2 separate regions of the Homo sapiens genome follow, and region 1 is linked to region 2. A link means that fine-mapping ties the variant in region 2 to the expression of a gene that starts in the linked region. Tissue or cell type: whole blood. Region 2 holds a variant in brackets; the other region holds the start of a gene. All regions are shown on one strand. Distances are between the middles of the regions.

What was found. PIP is the estimated chance that this variant, and not a neighbour inherited with it, causes the effect.
Region 1: it holds the start of STOML1, and the variant in region 2 is fine-mapped to the expression of STOML1 in whole blood (TOPMed, PIP above 0.99). The same link has a PIP of 0.9 or more in blood mononuclear cells.

What each region holds. Positions count from the first base shown.
Region 1 is chr15:73,987,067-73,996,175 of GRCh38, forward strand. It overlaps STOML1 (stomatin like 1), which reads right to left and starts at 5,229. Exons shown (of 7, transcript NM_004809.5): 1 at 5,025-5,229; 2 at 3,285-3,391; 3 at 2,042-2,191; 4 at 1,533-1,736. The coding sequence starts at 5,157. It overlaps PML (PML nuclear body scaffold), which reads left to right and starts at 7,650. Exons shown (of 9, transcript NM_033238.3): 1 at 7,650-7,875. The coding sequence starts at 7,747. RefSeq lists enhancers at 897-2,096, 950-1,139, 1,150-1,209, 1,380-1,439, 4,506-4,635 and 2 more and a silencer at 4,896-5,455.
Region 2 is chr15:73,967,054-73,977,544 of GRCh38, forward strand. No RefSeq gene overlaps it. Among named protein-coding and RNA genes, the nearest start is that of STOML1, 20 kb to the right of the region's middle. RefSeq lists an enhancer at 6,151-6,360. The variant G/A (reference allele first, on the strand shown) is at 4,481.

The DNA.
Region 1 (9,109 bases), 19 kb after region 2:
AGAGTGCTCATCCTAGAGTTTTTCTCCTGAGTGTTAGGAGGCAAGGCCTGCTGCAGAGAGCAATGAGCAGTGGTGGGGCTGGAGGAGGGCAGTGAAGGGCTGAGGCAGCTGGCCTGGAGCACTGGCAGGTAAGGAGTGGTAACTGGCTAAGGAAGGTCCAGCAAGTGAGAGGTGGGGACTCTGATTTCTCTAGAAGAAAATCAGGCAAAAAGGGGCATGTGAATAAGTGTACGCCTGAACCAGGGCCTGAGGGCGGTGTGCTGGACCTCCTGAGGTTCTGTCTCAACCACAGGCACAGCTCTCACTCTACCAGGTGCTCACTCAGTCTGGGAAATGGGACTTAAAGGACTCTCACATCCTGGTGTGGAACTGACCTCCCCAAACTGCCTGTCTCACATCAAAACAATGTGCAACAAGACTGAGATCAGTTTTCTCTTCCTAAAGGTGAATTAACACGGGGCATGGTTTTATGAATAAAAGTTGTTATCCACTTGCTATCTGAGTTGTGTTAGATCAAGCACTGGATTGAGGGGCGATGGTGGGATGGAGGCAGGTGGTCTAGCTATGGCTCAGCTCTGCCCTTGACCATAGCTCTCAGAGGCAAGTCAAATTATTTCTTAGCCTTAGCTTCCTCCCTCCAAAATAAAACAGTAGTACCGACTTGCAGCAAAAAATGTCAAGCTCAGAAATGCTGGGCCAGACAAAAGGACTTTGTAAACCATAAACTGCTAAGCACGTAAGAGCTACTGTTAGGATCTCAAATAGTATTTCCTCAGGAATTTCCCCTCGCTGCTTCCAGTGGGACCTCCAGGACTGGCATTTATCCCATTCCCCCGACTGTCCTCTAACCTTGATTCCCCAGGGCAAAGCAGAGCCAAGAGGAATGGGGAGAAATGTCACCTACATTCCCCTGTCAGGACACAAGAGGAAGCACAAGTTGAGTGTGGCTGCAGGGGACACAACTCTGCATGTGTATTTATTTCTACCCCATCTTGTAGCAGAAGAGATTTAGGGCAAACTCCAATATACACATGGAGAAGAGGCAGGAAAAAGATCCAAATGTCCTCATGTTCCTTTGTTCTGTTCCAAACAAGGAAACAAAAATCACAAGCATGCACACGCTGCATGGTGAGCCTGGAATTCCCCAGCAGGTGACTGGGCTGGGAGGGTCCCTGCTCCATCACCCATCTGCCTGCCCCATGAGTCAGGCCCGGAATGAGAGCTGTAGAAGCCAGTGTCATCATGGCAGAGCAGTGAGGGGTAAAAACTAAGGGGCAGACCCCAAGAATGTCTGCCGGGGCCACTTCCTCTTCTCAGGGACAAGTTTGCCCAGGATCGTTATGGTCTACGCCCACCTGCCATTCCTCAACTCATGGCCCCACCCAGGCACTGGCTCTTCAAAGGTGGTTACACTATTGGGACATATGGTAAACTGAGGCCCAGAGTGGTCTGACTCTTTTCTCAAAGTGACCTGGCAGGTGGAGCCAGGCCGGTGCCACCCCTCAAGCTCCGTCTTGTGAGGGGCTGCCTACCAGAAGCTGGTCGCTGATCTTGAGCTTCTCCATCTGGATCTCCCGCAGCGGCCTCTTGAGCAGGGCCTTGGTCATGGCGTTCTGGGCTGTCATGCGTGTGGCTGTGTTCAGGTCTTTCACAGTCATCACCGACAGCACCGGGTCCCAGATGCGAAACTGGACATCGGCTCCCACGGACAGCACAGCCCCGTCCTTAGAGGCCAGCTGTTGGGGGAGGCCATGAGAGAGAGACACTCAAGGGGCTGGGGGTGCAGGGAGGTCAGGCCCACTGGGGCCACCCAGCTTGAACCACCTGCTTGGCAGCTAGCTCCTCAAGGGCAAATGGTGTCACCAAGTATGTAGGGTTAGGTGTATGAAGCAAGGATGTCCTCCTAGCTTCCATCAATTTTCTGGTCTCTTCTTCCCCCTTCCCCCCTCAGATGGTGACTCACAGGCTGAGGTCCTGGCACCACAGTACATTCTGGACAGGCCCCCAGTTCCTCTGTCAAGGCAGCTGAGAAGCCCCTCACCTTGCAGGGAGGGACGTTGAAGGCTCGTGTCCTCAGATCCACCCTCTGAAAGGAGTCAATGAAGGGCAAGAGCAGAACCATGCCAGGTCCCTGGGGGGTGCGGATCCGGCCCAGGCGGAACACAATCATCCGCTCGTAGGTGGGCACAATCTGTCCACAATGGCAAGGGAAAGAGTTGAAAGTGGTCAGCCTAGGCTGGCCAATGCTGTCTGCCTAGGTCCCTTCCTCACTTCTCTCCTCCTCACCTGGGTCACAGTTAGGTATCCCTAGCACTGTTTCCAGATGAGAAAACCAAGGCTCAGGGAAGCTAAGTGACTGCTCAAAAATTGCATAGCCCTAAGTGAAATAGTGAAGATTTGAATGCAGTTCTGAATAACTCCAAAGGCCATGTGTCTTAACTACTGCACTGTATTGACTTGATCCTTAGAGAAACTTTTCATCTCTGTGGTCTGAAGTTAGACATGACTCATACCAGGAAACTGTCTGTCCTTGGATTAGTTAGGAGAAAAGGCTCGGCTGCCCTAACAGCACCCCCGGGGAAAGGGCTTTGTCAACTTTAGGTCCCTGGACCTCCTAGAGAAGTAGTGATGTCCAAATTGAGAAATGAAGGCCCAGAGAGGCAAAGAAACCTGTTCAAGGTCACATGGCATTTGTTTCTGTGGCAGTTTTAGAACTAGGATATAAGGCCATTTAAGGACCCCCTTGCAGACCACACCAAACCCAGAGGTTTTCTAGAGAGGGACTGTTGCCTAGGGCTACACAAAGGGCAAGGCCTCCTTGGGCTTCCACCTTCCCCCAGCTTTCACGTGCGATGCTGAACTATAGCTCCATGGTTCATCCTTTTCCCACTGTACCACCCCTTATGGAAAATGAGGCCTGAATTCCTATTATGCACTACCAGCTGGGCTAAGTTGGGTGTTTTCATTTCTAATTTATTCTAACCCAAAGAGAAGATAATTTGGCAAAGACATCTGCGTGTACCTTAAAGCCAGTGTCCAGATCCCAGGACTTAGGAGTTTGGGACTTGCTTCTACCCCCTACTGGCTCCCAGTATGACTTTAGACAAGCCCAAGCCTTAGTTTCCTCCCCTGACCAATGTGAATGAATGGTTCTTGCCTAGCCCATTACACAAAGGGGTAATAATATTTAGGGAAAGGGGACAGAGGATAGGCAAATTTATTCATCAATGCCAAAGCTCTCAGTGTGGCCCAACCACCCTGGGGGCTGACCCAGCCAGCCTTACCTTCAGGGCAAACCAGCCAGAAATGGGGAAGGTGACCAACAGCAGCAAGAACCCCAGGAAACTGATGAGGCCATGACAGAGGCAGGAGGGCCAGCTCTGGGGTACATCTGCAGGTGAGAGCAGAGGTGGTCAACTGGACCTGCACGACAGCTGCCAAGCGGAGTGAACTTGGGCAAGTGTACCTTACGCCCACCTTCCCCTCGAGAGGCTCCTTCCTTCTCAGGGCTCTCAATCTGGCTCCTTGCCTAATATTCCCGTATCTTTGGGCAGCTGCAAGTTAGGGTCTGTTCCCTCCTCCCATACATCAACACTCATTTGTCCCAAGTCCAACAACCCTCACAAGGCCTTATTCTCTGCTAGGCAACAGCCATTCAATCTCAGAATCCAGTCCGCGTGATGATGCTCTCCTCACTGGACTGAGTAGGGGTCAATCCTCTCGTTTAATTTATATTGCCTACCCATACCTGGCATGGAGCCAGGAGCACCTGGGCATCTGTAAACATGCACTGAATACTGCTGGCAAAACACATTCCTCCTATACCATCAGCCCCAGAAGTGTGCTTTCCAGGAGTCCTTATGAAGATGATGCCTTAGCCTACAGGGATAAATCATAAATAGCTTATCAACGGGAGCCACAGATGAGGAATTAGATTATTATTTTCTATTCCACACCCAACTTTAATGCCTTAATGACCATTAAAAAATGCCTATTTCACGAGATGGCGCCACTGCACTCCAGCCTGGGGGACAGAGCGAGACTCCATCTCAAAAAAACAACAAACAACAAAAAACAAAAACAAAAAAAAACCCTGCCTATTTCAATTCAAGAAAATTGTTAGGGGTCGGGGTCAGGGGCAGGGCTAGAAAGATGAGGCTTATCCAAGCCAAATGTCCTGGCCCCTGGAGATTCAGGAGCCCAAGTTGGGAGCAAAGCCGAGACAGCTCCAGAATCTGGGATGAGGTTATTTGCCGCTTTCCTCCCAACCCTGGACAGGAAGCAGTCGGGAGCCCTGCTCCATTCTTCCAGGAAGCCCTGCCCTCTGGGCTAAGCCCCAGAGCACTGAGGCTCCACTTTGTGCCTGGCTCTGATCCACCAGGCCTCTCAAGAGACTTCTGGATAGGGAGAGCTTTCAGGACAGGAAGGCCAGGGAGGGATCAAATCCAAGGTTAGGCGGTTAGGCTGAACAGCGTGGGATCTGGCCTGTAGGCCAAAGGAGCCACAGAAGACTTTGAGGGCAAGACAGAAGCAGGGCAGATCCAACAGGCAGCTGAGGACCTGTCATTTTGGCCTGCACATCCAGGAGATGCCTAGTTCCCGGGCTTCTAGAGGTGCCCCCTAGGGCGAAAATTCTTCCATTTCCCTGCAGCAGGTGCCTTTAGGGTGCTGGTGGCCTCCTCTGCCTAGACCTCGGTTTCTTCTATGCGAAATAGAAACCTGAAACGTCTTCCCAGGCCTAAAGGGCTGATAAGAGCCGAGGACAAATGTGGTGAGGTGAGGTTTTGGAAGATAGGAGCAACGCTGGCTGGCTCTGGGGCCAAAGCCCCATGACCCTAGGGAGGGCGGATCGGCGCTAGCACCAGGCGCCGGGTCCAGCCCCCTCTCCACATCGTATCCCTTTCTCAGTCCCCCCTCGTAGGGTGCGACGGCACCGGGCCGGCCGACTCCTCGGAGGCAGAGATTCGGGCCTGGGGGTTGCCGGCCGGTCCCCCCCGGCTCCGCCGTGCCAGGCGGCCACTCACCGGCCCCTGTCCCCACGCCGCCCCGCTCCGGGGACAAGCAGCCCTTCTGCGAGCCCAGAAAGCCGAAGCTCGACTGCTGGAAGCGGTCAAAATCACCCAGGGGCAGCGCCCGGTACCCAGACCTGCCGAGCATGGCTTTTGACAGGAGACACGCCCCGCGCCTCCGCGCGGCGCCCTCCCTGGCCAGTGGGCCCTACGCGGCCCCGCCCTCCTGGCTGCTGCTTCCGGCTTCACCCGCGCGGCCACCCGCGGCGGCGCGGGCGCAGGAAGAGGAGGCCGGCCGGGGCCCGCTTCCGCCGTCGCATGGCTCCCCCTGCGCTGGGAGGACCGAACTGCAGCCCAGGGCTACTGGGTGTGATCGGCGTTCCTCGGACCCCGCTGGGGTCATCGCCTCCTCCCCTCTTCTCCTACTCAGCCCTAGAAAAGCTGGAGGGGAAGCTGGGCACGGTGGCTCACTCCTATAATCCATCAATTTGGGAGACTCAGGCAGGAGGATCGCTTGAGGCCAGGAATTCAGGACCATCCTGAGCAACATAGTGAGAGCCCATCTCTACAAAAAATTTTTAAAAATTAGCCTGGCGTGGGATGCCTGCCTGTGGTCCCAGCCACTTGGGAGGCTGAGGCGGGAGGATCTCTTGAGTCCAGGAGTTTGAGGCTGCAGTGAGCTATGATCGTGCCACTGCACTGCAGTCGGAGCGAGAGAGCAAGATCTCATCAGGGTTTACAGGAAGCCAATCTTCTCCAGGATCAAGGACATGCTATATCAGCCTTCTCAGCACTCCTTCTCTCACACTGGAGGCAGGACATGCCATATCTGGACTTTGGGTTTCTCTGGGACATAGTCTGCAAATTATTCCTCTTTGTGAACCCACAGCCCAGCAAGCAGGGACTGGCATAGGGCAGGTCTCAATACTTATTTGTTAAGTAATGGCCTGGCCAGGTCACCGTGATCAAGGTGGAGTAGGAAGGCCTGAACTTTGGCACAAAAAGAAAGAAGTTTCACATGCAGACTTCGGGGAGCATGGGAGTGTAAGGAAGAAGGGGATAGCACAGAGCTACATGAGGGCAGGGGCCCCAGAGCACCACAGAGGTGAGGCCCTCAGTCCTGCAGGTCCAGAAAGAGCATGCCCCTTGATCCAGGTACCTGGAATTAACTTGCCTCTCCAGGGCTTGAGAAAACCTGAATGCAACTCGTGAATTTCCTTTGAGAAGTGTTAACTTCCAACAGGACTTTGGGGTAGTCTGGGAGCAGGCTATCTTCCAAAGCAAGCAAAGAAATGAATAAAGCTTCCCCAGCTCTGCCTCCTCAGCCAATCGCCTCTGGCCTCCGAAGCCCCATCCTGCCATAGCCCACTTCCAGGTCCCTTGTGCAGATGGCTGCCCACCATATTTGGCTTTCATGGACTGATTCTCTAAAGGCCTGGGAGTACTGACCAGGCTGGAGGGAAGGGCAGGCTCCTGAGGCCTTACAGTCCCTAGGAAGTTGCGTATCTGCCCAACCCCTGCTCTCCACCCTGCAGACTGTAAGGTTTACAAGAGCCAGGCCCTATCATCATCCTTTCTAGTCTGTTTCTAAGTTGGAACAGAGTACGGAATGGGTACACAGGAGCCAGCACAGTGGTTGCGATGGTTTAAGTTTGAAGCCGGGGCGCTGACCCAGTGAGGTCACCTGGAACTGTGCCCCTTTCCCCTTACCAGCTGGGAGTCTGACATGCTTTTCCATTGGCGAAGACCTAGCTGGCTCTCCCCTCACCCTCTTCATACCCGCTCTCCAGCTCTCCCCCTCCCTCCTGCCCCCACCACCTCAGATCCACCAGCCTTTCCAGCTGTCACTCAAGGCATCATCCTGCTCCCTCACCTCCAGTCACTGGCTTCCCAGGATCTCTGAATCAAGTCCCTCCTCTGCATCCCACAGCCACTGTCCTAGACCAGGGCACCTGCTCCTAGGTTGTCAGAGTGACTGTCCCATCATGCACAGCTGATCGTGTTGTTCCCTGGTTCCAAATCCTTCAGCAACTTCCCATCACTCACAGAACTGGTTCAATCTCCTCAGCTAGGATCTTGTCCTAGCACACTCCTTGGGTATCATTTCTCATGAATTCCCTCTTAAATCTGAAAATGGCCAAAATTAGTTCCCAAACAGGCTTTTGCAAGAGCTATCTTTTCTGTTTCAAGTGTCCCCCGTACCCCACCACCTACAACCCTAAATCCCTGGTGAATTTCCACTGCTTTTGCAGGTCCCAGCTGTGGGCTCTCCTTTCCAGAATGTCTCCGTTTGCAGGCTTGCTCTTCCATTACATCTACGGCTCTTAGAAAGCAGGGGCTGCGTGTGGCTCATCTTTGTACGCCCAGCTCCCGGCAGGACGTGGCACGAAGCAGTGCCAGTGTGAACGGATGAATGGATCAAAGCCGGGAGCAGGGCTGCCCCCCTGCAGCTCTGCCCTACCTCTCCCGCTTTACCGTAAGTCAGCGGTAGGTCTGCAGCTCTCCGCCTCTACCTCCTCCCCGCTCTGGGCGTGTCTTTAAAACCCACAGTCGGCCTCTCTGCCCCCTAGAACCGCCCCCAGCTTCTGTCTCACTTCCTCTCCAGAGGCGGGCCCTGAGCCGGCACCTCCCCTTTCGGACAGCTCAAGGGACTCAGCCAACTGGCTCACGCCTCCCCTTCAGCTTCTCTTCACGCACTCCAAGATCTAAACCGAGAATCGAAACTAAGCTGGGGTCCATGGAGCCTGCACCCGCCCGATCTCCGAGGCCCCAGCAGGACCCCGCCCGGCCCCAGGAGCCCACCATGCCTCCCCCCGAGACCCCCTCTGAAGGCCGCCAGCCCAGCCCCAGCCCCAGCCCTACAGAGGTACTATTGGGTTAGGGGATGATGGGGTTAAGCTTTGTTGGTTTGCTGTGGTGGGGAGAGGCGGGAAGAGAGGGTCTAACGGAGGATTTGGTCAAGTACCCTAGAGAGTGACACAAAGCGGGAAGTCCAGACACCAGGGTCCTGACCGTCTCGGGTGGGGCAGGGAAGGGAGGGTAGGATAGAGTAGAAAAGAGGACACGGAGGAGTTGGGGCGGCCTCGCTGGGCTGCGGTTTCTCCACTGAGCAGTTGGGCAAGGTGAGAAGGGTCAGTGGCCTCCGGGCCTGGGCCCTTCCGCCCACCCTCGAGCCCTGCCTCAACTTTGCCTCAGATGCAGGACTTCAGATTAGGGAGGATGGAGGTAGTACCCCTGTTGCGCTGGCCTGGAGCCAGGGGCATGTCCCAGGCACGGCAAAACTAAAACCAACTTCCCAGATCCGAGGTGAGAAACTGGCTCAGACTGAAGAGGTATCTTTGCCAAGGCCTCCCAGCTCATGTGGTTTCTGCTTAAGGAAGCCTCCCCAACGAACCCTTCTCTTGCCACACCTTTCCTGCCCACCTCCCACCTCCCCCGACAAAGGAACTACTTGGGTTTCTTGCTCTGCTGCCTTTCAGGCCCTTTTACTCCCCTTCATGAAAGTACAGAGGACACCGTATTACAGTAACTTTTATAAACATTATTACAACTAAGAATAACATTACTTAACAATACTAGGTAACATTTATGAGCACTTCAAATGTGCCAGGTACTGTATTAAGCACTTTGGTTTTTTTTTGTTGTTGTTTGTTTGTTTTGCTTTGTTTTTTGTTTGTTTGTTTATCTGTTTGTTTTTGAGACGGAGTCTCACACTGTCGCCCAGGCTGGAGTGCAATGGTGCGATCTCGGCTCACTGCAACCTCCTCCTTCCGGGTTCACGCCATTCTCCTGCCTCAGCCTCCCGAGTAGCTGGGATTACAGGCCACGCCACCATACCTGGCTATTTTTTATATTTTTAGTAGAGATGGGGTTTCACTATGTTGGCCAGATTGGTCTCTAACTCCTGACCTCGTGATCCACCCACCTCGGCCTCCCAAAGTGCTGGGATTACAGGCATGAGCCACCATGCCCGGCCTGTTTTTGTATTTTACAAAATGTGGTAAAATATACCTAATGGATAAGTTCCTATGTTAACCATTTATAAGTGTACCATTCAGTGGCATTAAGTAGATTCACAATATTGTGTAACCATCACCACC
Region 2 (10,491 bases):
ACCAACCTGGCCAACACGGTGAAACCCCGTCTCTACTAAAAATACAAAAATTAGCCGGGTGTGGCAGTGTGTGCCTGTAATCCCAGCTACTCAGGAGGCTGAGGCAGAAGAATTGCTTTAACCCGGGAGGAGGAGGTTGCAGTGAGCCAAGATTGTGCCACTGCACTTCAGCCTGAAAACAGAGTGAGACTCTGTCTCAAAAAAAAAAAAAAAAAAAAGCTTTTTTGTGGTCTTTGTGCTGATACCAAATAAGTGGTATCATTTCCAACACCAATCGATTTTCTGCTTCTGTGATACCAATTGGGTGTTCAATAATTCAATTCTATTCTGATACTAACCTGGAGTTAGTGTCAGACTCCACAGGCTGAAGGGCTCAGTCCCATAAGACTACCCCCATTTCTCCCAGGCGCAGTGGCTCACACCTGTAATCCCAGCACTTTGGGAGGCTGAGGCGGGCGGATCACCTGAGGTCAGGAGTTCGAGACCAGCCTGGCCAACATGGTGAAACCCTGTCTCTACTAAAAATACAAAAATTAGCCAGGCCTGGTGGCGGGCACCTGTAATCCCAGCTACTCGGGAGGCTGAGGCAGAAGAATTGCTTGAACCCAGGAGGTGGAGGTTGCAGTGAGCTGAGGTCACGCCATTGCACTCCAGCCTGGGCAACAAGAGTGAAACTCCATCTCAAAAAAAAAAAAAATGGCTGGGTGTGGTGGCTCATGCCTGTAATCCCAGAACTTTGGGAAGCCGAGGCAGGCGGATCACCTGAGGTCAGGAGTTCGAGTCCAGCCTGGCCAACATGGTGAAACCTCATCTCTACTAAAAGTACAAAAATTAGCCAGGAGTGGTGGCGAGTGCCTGTAATCCCAGCTACTTGGGGGGCTGAGACAGGATAATTGCTTGAACCCAGAGGCGGAGGTTGTGTGAGCCGAGATCGTGCCACTGCACTCCAGCCTGGGTGACAGAGTGAGACTCGATGTCTCCAAAAAAACAAAACAAAACAAAACAAAACTACCCCCATTTCACATGCCAGTCACAAGTACTGGGTCCCCAGGTTACCCACACTTCTGTCCAGCCAACTACAAATTTGGAGGTTCCCGTGACCTCCATTCCTCAGGTTTGATAATTTGCTAGAATGGCTCACAGAACTCAAAAAAACACATTACTTCACCATTACTGGTCTATTGTAAAAGATACAACTCAGGAACAGCCAAGTGAAGAGATGCATAGGACTGGGTATTGTAGGGTGGGTGTGCAGAGCCTCCCTGCCTGCTCTGGGCGTCACCCCTCCAGCATCTCCATGTGTTCCAACCCAGAAGCTCTCCAAACTCCATTGTTTTGGAACTTTATGAAGGTTCCATTACAGAGGCATGATTGATGAAATCATTGGTCATTGGTGACTGAACTCCATCCCTAGCCACTGTCCACTCCCTGGAGGTCAGAGAGTGAGGCTGAAAGTTCCAACTCTCTCATCATCAATCATGGCTTAGTCTTTCTGATCAGCAGCCTGTATCCAGAAACTATTTAGGGTCCTCATTAACATAAGCTCAGGTATGGTTGAAAGGGGTTTGTTATGAATAACAAAACATCACTGTAACTCAGGAAATTTTAGGAGGGTTTTAAAAGATCTGTGCCAAGAACCAGGGACAAAGGCCAACTCTATTTTTCTCACTATATACATGATTTCCCATTTCCTACAGGCACACACAAACACACACACAAATGGGTGCGTGCATAACTGGTTAGATCTGAATAAACTCAATGGATTGTGCCGATGTTCCATTTCTTCGTTTTGATACTGTACTCTGGTTATGTGAGTTGTTCGCATGAGAGGTAGGGAACATGGGACTTCTCTCTACATTCCTTTGTGACCTTCTGTGACCCTACAATTATTTCAAAATTAACAACTTAGAATACAAATAACCAGAGTCCACCTCCCGCCCTGCTACCAGCCTGGTCCACACCACTCTCTTTTCTTGCCTGGATTATTGCAACAGCCGCTTTTTTTTTTTTTTTTTTTTTTTTTTTTTTTTTTTTTTTGAGATGGAGTCTTGGAACAGTTTCTTAATGGGTCTGCTTTTACATACAATCTATTCTCAATAAAGCAGCTTCGTAAGACAGATCCTACCATTTGTAGAAATAAACAAAAACCATTCAGAGCTTGCTGTAGCAAGGTTGTCAGCCAGCATCACTTGCATTTTTGTAGGGACTCAAAATCAGGCTGAGCCTTATTGTCGGTGGGCCGGGGGTAGGGGTGCGGGAAAGGAGGTGGGGGAAGGCTTGGGGTGTGCCCTGATTGGAGGCTATTGGCCTGGAGAAGCTGGGTGGGATAATTTGGAGGGGATTCTGAGATTGGCTGGGGAGGGGTGGGTGCATATTTGGCTTTCTCTTGCTGGCCCTAAGTTGGAAGCTGGGACAAAAATTAGGGAAGCTGCCAGTTTTTAATCAAGTCCTGGCCTTTCGGGGCTGATTGTTAGAGAAGTTATTGTTTTGCTTCCTGGATGGCTACTGGAGATAGTGATCTGGCTTCCTTCATGTCTGACTTATAGCAGACTGGCATCCTGGGCTGTGGATTCCAGATGAGGGGGTTGGTTTCCTGGGCAGCTTGCTGCAGGTTAGGCTCAGAGTTCTAGTTTCCACAGGGTCTGGCCATGGTGCACGTGTATGTTCAGTCCCTCATGTTCCTCTGCTTAGAACCCTGCAGGGGCTCCCACTGAACACAGCCCTTCCTGTGGCCTACCAGGCCCTACATGAGCTGGCCCCATTTCCCCTCTGGCCTGGTCTTCTGCCACTCTCCTCCCTCTCTCCATCCCAGCCACAATGGCCTCCTTGCTGTTCTAGAACATGCCAGGCCCTCTCCCAAGGCATTCATGGCCTTCTAACATACTGTATGCCTTTCTTATTTTTCTCTCTCTCTCTGTTTCTCACTCTCTCTCTCTCTATATATATATATGTATATACGTACGTATATACCTATATGTATATACATATACACACACACACACACACACATATATATATGTGTGTGAGACAGAGACTCACTCTGTTGCCCAGGCTTGGAGTGCAGTGGTGTGGTCCTAGCTCACTGCAGCCTCAAACTCCCGGGCTCAAGCTATCCTCCCACCTCAGCCTCCCAAAGAGCTGGGATTACAAGCAGGAGTCAATGCACCCGGCCTCCTTTCTGATTTTTAATGCTTATTGCTTATGTCTAGCTCTCACAACTAGAATGTAAATTCCACAAGGACAGGGTTCTTGGTGGGTTTGTTCCCTACTATATCCTTGGCACCTAGAACATTGCCTTGCCCAGCACATAGTGAGTGCCCAATAAAAAATGTTTGAGTGAATCAATGAGTTTGTGCGTACATGTGTGCAGATACATTTACTAACATCTACTACTTCTAATTAGGTGCTCAGTGTTTACTAGACACTATGCTAAGTGCTTTCATCTAGTATCTAATTTTTATTCTTCATAGCTTTCCTATGGGTAGGTGACATCAGGCCACTTATCTTTCAGGTAAAGTGGTCTCAGAGGACATGCTGAAAGCCCATGAGCTTCTCAGGGACCTAAATAAATGTTTAAAACCTGAGAAAAGTCTTGGCTCCAAAATGTAAAAACTACAGAATCATCCAAATTAATAAATGTTTAATCAAATGTCTACAAAGTGTCATCGATTGTTAATTTATGTCATTAATTCTCTATTGGCCTCTTTAATTATTAAATGCAGTGTTCATAAGAATTTCATTACTTTTGAAAAGAATTTGTAGACTAGATGTTAACTCTTGGAGCACAGTCATGTATCTGTTAACCACAGGAATACCATCAGAAAAATGTGTCATTAGGTGATTTCAATGTTGTACAAACATCAGAGAGTGTCCTTACACACTCTGTGATGTGTAGCCTGCTACACACTTAGGCTATAAGAGATAGACTATTGCTCCTAGGCTACAAACCTGTACAGCACGTGACTGTACCGAATACTGTAGGCAATTATAATACAATAATAAGTATTTGTGTATCTAAACATAGCTAAACATAGAAAAGGCACAGTAAAAATATCATATAAAATATTTAAAATGTACACCTGTTTAGGGTACTTACCATGAATGGAGCTTGCAGGACTGGAAGTTGCTCTGGGTGAGTCCGTGAGTGAGTGGTGAATGAATGTGGAGGCCTAGGACAATACTGTACACTACTGTAGACTTTAAAGACACTGTCACCTAGGCTACTACACTAAGTTTATTAAAAATATTATTCTTTGGCAGGGCGCGGTGGCTCACGCCTGTAATCCCTGCACTTTGGGAGGCCGAGGTGGGTGAATCACCTGAGGTCAGGGGCTCGAGACCTGCCTGGTCAACATGGTGAAACCCCATCTCTACTAAAAATACAAAAAATTAGCCAGGCATGGTGGTGGGCACCTGTAATCCCAGCTACCAGGGAGACTGAGGCAAGAGAATCACTTGAACCTGAGAGGCGGAGGTTGTA[G/A]TGAGCCGAGATTGTGCCATTGCACTCCAGTCTAGGCAACAAGAGCAAAACTCTGTCTCAAAAAAAAAGTTTTTCTTCAGTAATAAATTAGCCTTAGCTTTCTACAACTTTATGAACTTTAAAATTTTTTTTAAACTTTTTGACTTTTTATAATAACACTTAGCTTAAAACACAAACACATTATGCAGCTATACAAAAATATTTTCTTTTTTTGTATCCTTATTCTATAAACTTTTTATTTTTCAATTATTTTATTTTTACTTTTAAAACCTTTTTGTTAAAAACTAAGACACAAATACACACATTAGCCTAAACCTACATAGGGTCAGGACCATCAATATCACTGTCTTGCACCTCTACACCTTGTCCCACTGGAAGTTCTTCATAGGCAACAACACGCATGGAGCTGTCACCTGCTATTGCAACAATGCTTTTTTTCTTTTTTTTTTTTTGAGACAGAGTCTTACTCTGTCGCCCAGGCTGGAGTGCAGTGGCACGATCTCAGCTCACTGCAGCCTCCACCTCCAAGGTTCAAGGGATCCTCAAGCCTCAGCCTCCCAAGTAGCCGGGAGTACAGGCACGCGCTACCATGCCCAGCGACGGGGTTTCGCCGTATTGGCCAAGCTGGTCTCGAACTCCTGACCTCAGGTGATCCACCTGCCTCGGCCTCCCAAAGTGCTGGGATTACAGGCGTGAGCCACCACGCCCAGCGGACAATGCTTTCTTCTGCAATCTCTCCTAAAGGACCTGCCTGAGGCACTTCTTGAAGAAGTGTCCGTCTTTTCAGAAGTATGTCCATGGTGGTTTGCCAAGTTTGTTTCTTTCTTCCGTCATAGATTTGCATGAGTAATGCTTTGTGTCAGCTAAAATGTTACATCGGCTATGACGTCACTAGGTGATAGGAATTTGTCAGCTCCATTATAATCCTATGGGACCGCCATCGGATACGCAGCCCATCACTGACCTGAGACGTCGTTATTTAGGGTGTGACTGTACTTTAAGAATGCAAATGAATACCCAGGGAGGGCTGAGAACGCGTAGGTAATTACACCATAAATGAATTACTCTTAGCCAAGTAATTTCCAAGGCAAACATACAAAAATCACCTCGTGTTACCTGACAGTGCTATGTTATATTTAACGTAAGAAATCTGTGTATTTTAATATTTAATAAGGTGTGGGAAGGAACTTCCAAAGGTAATAGCATCTGGTCCTAGCAAGGTCTTAAAACGCCGTTTGATTTCAGAATGCCTCATTTTGTAGATTTAATCCAGAATCTGCAGTTTCTGGCGACGCAGTAGTCCGTCTCCCCCAGTTTCTCCTGGCCAAAGCCTCCCACCTTCCTCTCTACCCCCACAACCCTGTCAAGCGCACCTGGACCAGGTACAACAGGGGTGTGTGTGTGAGTGTGAGTGTGTGTGTGAATGCATTTGGGAAAGGCTAGGCAGGGTGAATATTCCCTAGACCCCGCTCTTCACCGTCACTCTACTACAGCAGCTCACTGCCCTGCCCCGCCCCTCCCCGGCCCTGGAAAGCAGCCTCTGGAAAGAGGAAACCAGCTATCTCCCGTGTTGCCACAAGATGGCACCACAAGCTCGGGACTGGCTTTCTTTGCGTTCCCGTCAGAAAAAAACGAGAGCTCTGACCTAGGAGCCGAGGCTCCCAGGGAGACCTCTGGACGCCACTCCCCGGGCTGCTTCTCCTCCTCGGGGTGACTCGGGCCCTCTGGAGTGACCTGCATAGCTTTGTGGTTCGGGCTCCCATGGGGCCCAGAAGCCAGCATGGAGACTTAGGGCTTCTCTTGGGCCACTTTTCTCCTCATACCCAGCATGCAGACCAAGGTTGGGGATGAATTCTGAACGTGGGGCAGAGTCCCTGTCCCCAGAGCAACTCTGAGAGCACCTTGCCCTTCTTCCCAGGGCACAGGCACCAGCCTTCCTCCCCAGCTCAGTCCCTGCTTCTTTCTAAGACAGGTTCTTGCTCTGTCGCCCAGGCTGGAGTGCAGTGGTGCAATTATGGCTCACTGCAGCCTCGACCTCCTCCTGGTGAGAGGTGACAGCGCGCCTGCAGCCCTCGCTCTCGGCGCCTCCTCGGCCTTGGTGCCCACTCTGGCCGCGCTTGAGGAGCCCTTCAGCCCACTGCTGCACTGTGGGAGCCCCTTTCTGGGCTGGCCAAGGCTGGAGCCGGCTCCCTTAGCTTGCGGGGAGGTGTGGAGGGAGAGCCGCGGGCGGGAACCGGGGCTGCGCGCGGCACTTGCTGGCCAGCGCGAGTTCCGGGTGGGCGTGGGCTCCGCGGGCCCCGCACTCGGTGCGGCCGGCCGGCCGGCCCGCAAGCCCCGGGCAGTGAGGGTCTTAGCACCTGGGCCAGCAGCTGCTGTGCTCGATTTCTCGCCAGGCCTTAGCTGCCTTCCCGCGGGGCAGGGCTCAAGACCTGCAGCCCGCCATGCCTGAGCCTCCCCCCAGCTCCGTGGGCTCCTGTGCGGCCCAAGCCTCCGCGATGAGCGCCGCCCCCTGCTCCATGGAGCCCAATCCCATCGACCACCCAAGAACTGAGGAGTGCAGGCACACGGCGCGGGACTGGCAGGCAGTTCCACCTGCAGCCCCCGTGTGGGATCCACTGGGTGAAGCCAGCTGGGCTCCTGAGTCTGTTGGGGACTTGGAGAACCTTTATGTCTAGCTAAGGGATTGTAAATACACCAATCGGCAGTCTGTATCTAGCTCAAGGTTTGTAAACACACCAATCAGCACCCTGTGTCTAGCTCAGGGTTTGTGAATGCACCAATTGACACTCTGTATCTACCTACTCTGCTGGGGACTTGGAGAACTTTTGTGTCTACACTCTGTATCTAACTAATCTAGTGGGGACATGGAGAACTTTCGTGCCTAGCTCAGGGATTGTAAACGCACCAATCAGCACCCTGTCAAAATGGACCAATCAGCTCTCTGTAAAATGGGCCAATCGGCTCTCTGTAAAATGGACCAATCAGCAGGATGTGGGTGGGGCCAGATAAGAGAATAAAAGCAGGCTTGCCCAAGCTGGCAGTGACAACTCGCTGAGGCCCAGTTTACGTTGGCGAAGCTTTGTTCTTTCACTCTTTGCGATAAATCTTGTTGTTGTTCACCGTTTGGGTCCGCGCTGCCTTTATGAGCCGTAACACTCAACCGCGAAAGTCTGTAGCTTCACTCCTGAAGCTAGCGAGACCACGAACCCACCGGGAAGAAGAAAAAACTCCAGACGCACCGCCTTCAGAGCTGTAACACTCACTGGGAAGGTCTGTGGTTTCAGTCCTGAGCCCGTGAGACCACAGACCGACCAGTGGGAAGAAATTCCGCACACATCTGAACATCAAAAGTAACAGACTCTGGATAGGCCGCGTTTAAAAACTATAACACTTACCACGAGCATCCGTGGCTTCATTCTTGAAGTTAGTGAGACCGAGAACCCATTAATTCCCGAAACACACTGGGCGCAAATCTTCCCTTCTCAGTTTTCCAAGTAGCTGGGACTACAGGCGCCAACCACCATGCCTGGCTAATTTTTTTTGTATTTTTAGTAGAGATGGGGTTTCACTGTGTTAACCAAGATGGTCTCAATCTGACCTCGTGATTCACCCGCCTCGGATTCCCAAAGTGCTGGGCTTACAGGTGTGAGCCCGCACACCTGGCCACCAGTTATTTTTCAATTGTTCTGTTTCCCTGTTCTTGCCTTACTAAGAAAGTAATTTTGAAATGACCGATCCGTTCTTTGTTTTTTGTTTCTGGTTTCTTCAGCTTATTCTGTCTGTAAAACCTGCGTCCTCTGCTCCGCTCCATGAAGACGCTCATTCTGTTTTATAGAAGTTAGTAAGTGTGATATATCTATTCTTTGTTTTTGTCTATAGTTCCTGGCTGACAGCCCATATAATCATTGTAATTTCCTAGGAGACTAGAGTGTGATAAGAGTATCTTTCCTTAAAATATTTGGCCTTTCATCCTTTGTTCTTGAAACAGCTCTGGAGCAGCTCCAGAGTAAGCATAAAGGTGAAAGATGGGCCGGGCGGAGTGGCTCACGTTTGTAATCCCGGCACTTTGGGAGGCCAAGGTGGCAGATAACGAGGTCAGGAGTTCGAGACCAGCCTGACCAACATGGTGAAACCCTGTCTCTACTAAAAATACAAAAATTAGGTGGGCATGGTGGTGCATACCTGTAATCCCAGCTGCTCAGGAGGCTGAGGAGGAGAATTGCATGAACTCGGGAGGCAGAGGTTGCAGTGAGCTGAGATCGCCACTGCACTCCAGCCTGGGCAACAGAGCGAAACTCCATCTCAAAAAAAAAAAAAAAAAAGTGAAAGTCGGGCTTGTTGTTTGGAGCCACAACTGAGCTTAACGTTTATAACCACAGGATGGATGGCTGCTTGCCAGGGGATCCAACCGTCTGCTCAGAGCCCCACCCTCCACATTCGGGGAGGAGAGAGGAACCGAAGGTTGATCACCAATGGCCAGTGATGTAATTGATCATGCCTACATAATGAAATCGCCATAAAAACCCGTAACGACTGAGTTCAGGGGTTTCCCAGGAAGGTGGTCTTGTATGGAAGATTTTGTATTCGGGGATGGAAGCTTTTGTATTTGAGGCCCTTCCAGAGTGTGCCCCGTTTATGTCTTCATCTGGCTTTTCATTTGTATCCTTTAAAATATGCTTTATGATAAACTGCTAAACGTAAGCAAATGCTTCCCTGCATTCTGTGAGGTGCTCTAGCAAATTAATCAAACCCAAGAAGAGGGTCATGAGAATCCTGATTTATAGCCAGTTGGCCAGAAGTACAGGTAATACAACCTGGGGCTTGTAATTGGCACTGGAAGTGGGGGACGGTCTTGTGGGACTGGGATCTGACGCTATCTCCAGGTAGATAGTGTTGGAATTGAATTAAGAACACCCAGCTGGTGGCCACTGCAGAACTGGCTCCTTGCTTGATATGGGGGGGTGGGGGAACCCCACACATGTGGTATCAGAAGTGTGTTTCTGGAGTATAGTAGGAGAAATTGAGTTTGTTTTCTGCTCATACACAGAGAAACAAAATCACTAAAGAGCAACAAATTGTATTCTGTTCAGATAATATAGTGGAAGAAATATTCCACTTATAGTAGTACCAAAAAGGATAAAGTACTTAAGAATAAATGTTCAGACGATATAAAGGACATTTCAAAACTTCTAAAGGACACAAAAGACATCAAAACACACCATGTTCAAGGATAGGAAGACTCAATATCATAAAGATTGTCATTTTCTTTTTTTTTTTTTTGAGATGGAGTCTCGCTCTGTTGCTGGGCTGGGTGGAGTGCAGTGACTCAATCTCGGCTCACTGCAACCTCCAACTCCCGGATGCAAGCGATTCTCCTGCCTCAGCCTCTCAAGTAGCTGGGACTACAGGTGCATGCCACCACGCCCAGCTAATTTTCGTATTTTTAGTAAAGACGGAGTTTTACCCATGTTGGCCAGAATGGTCTCAATCTCTTAACCTCGTGATCCACCTGCCTCAGCCTCCCAAAGTGCTGGGATTACAGGCCTGGGCCACCATGCTTGGCCAAAGATTACAATTTTCTATGAGTTACTTGACACATTTAATATAATCCCAATAAAGATACAATATTCTTTTTAAAAAACTACACCAGGTCATTCTAAAGTTCATTGAAAAAACAAACACTAGTCAGATAAAGACACTGACAGTATTCTTTTTAAAAAACTACACCAGGTAATTCTAAAGTTCATTGAAAAAACAAACACTAGTCAGCCATGGTAAGTGGCTTGCATCTGTAGTCCCAGCTACTTGGGAGGCCAAGGTAGGAGGATCACTTGAACCCAGGAATTTGAGGCTGCAGTAAGCTATGATCACACCTGTGAATAGCCACTACACTCCAGCCTGGGCAACATAGCAAGACTCTGTCTCTTAAAACAAAAAAAGGCAGAAGGTCTTTCTTAAGAAGCATTAAAAAGAATTCCTCCTATAGATATTTAACATTTTATGGCACCCCA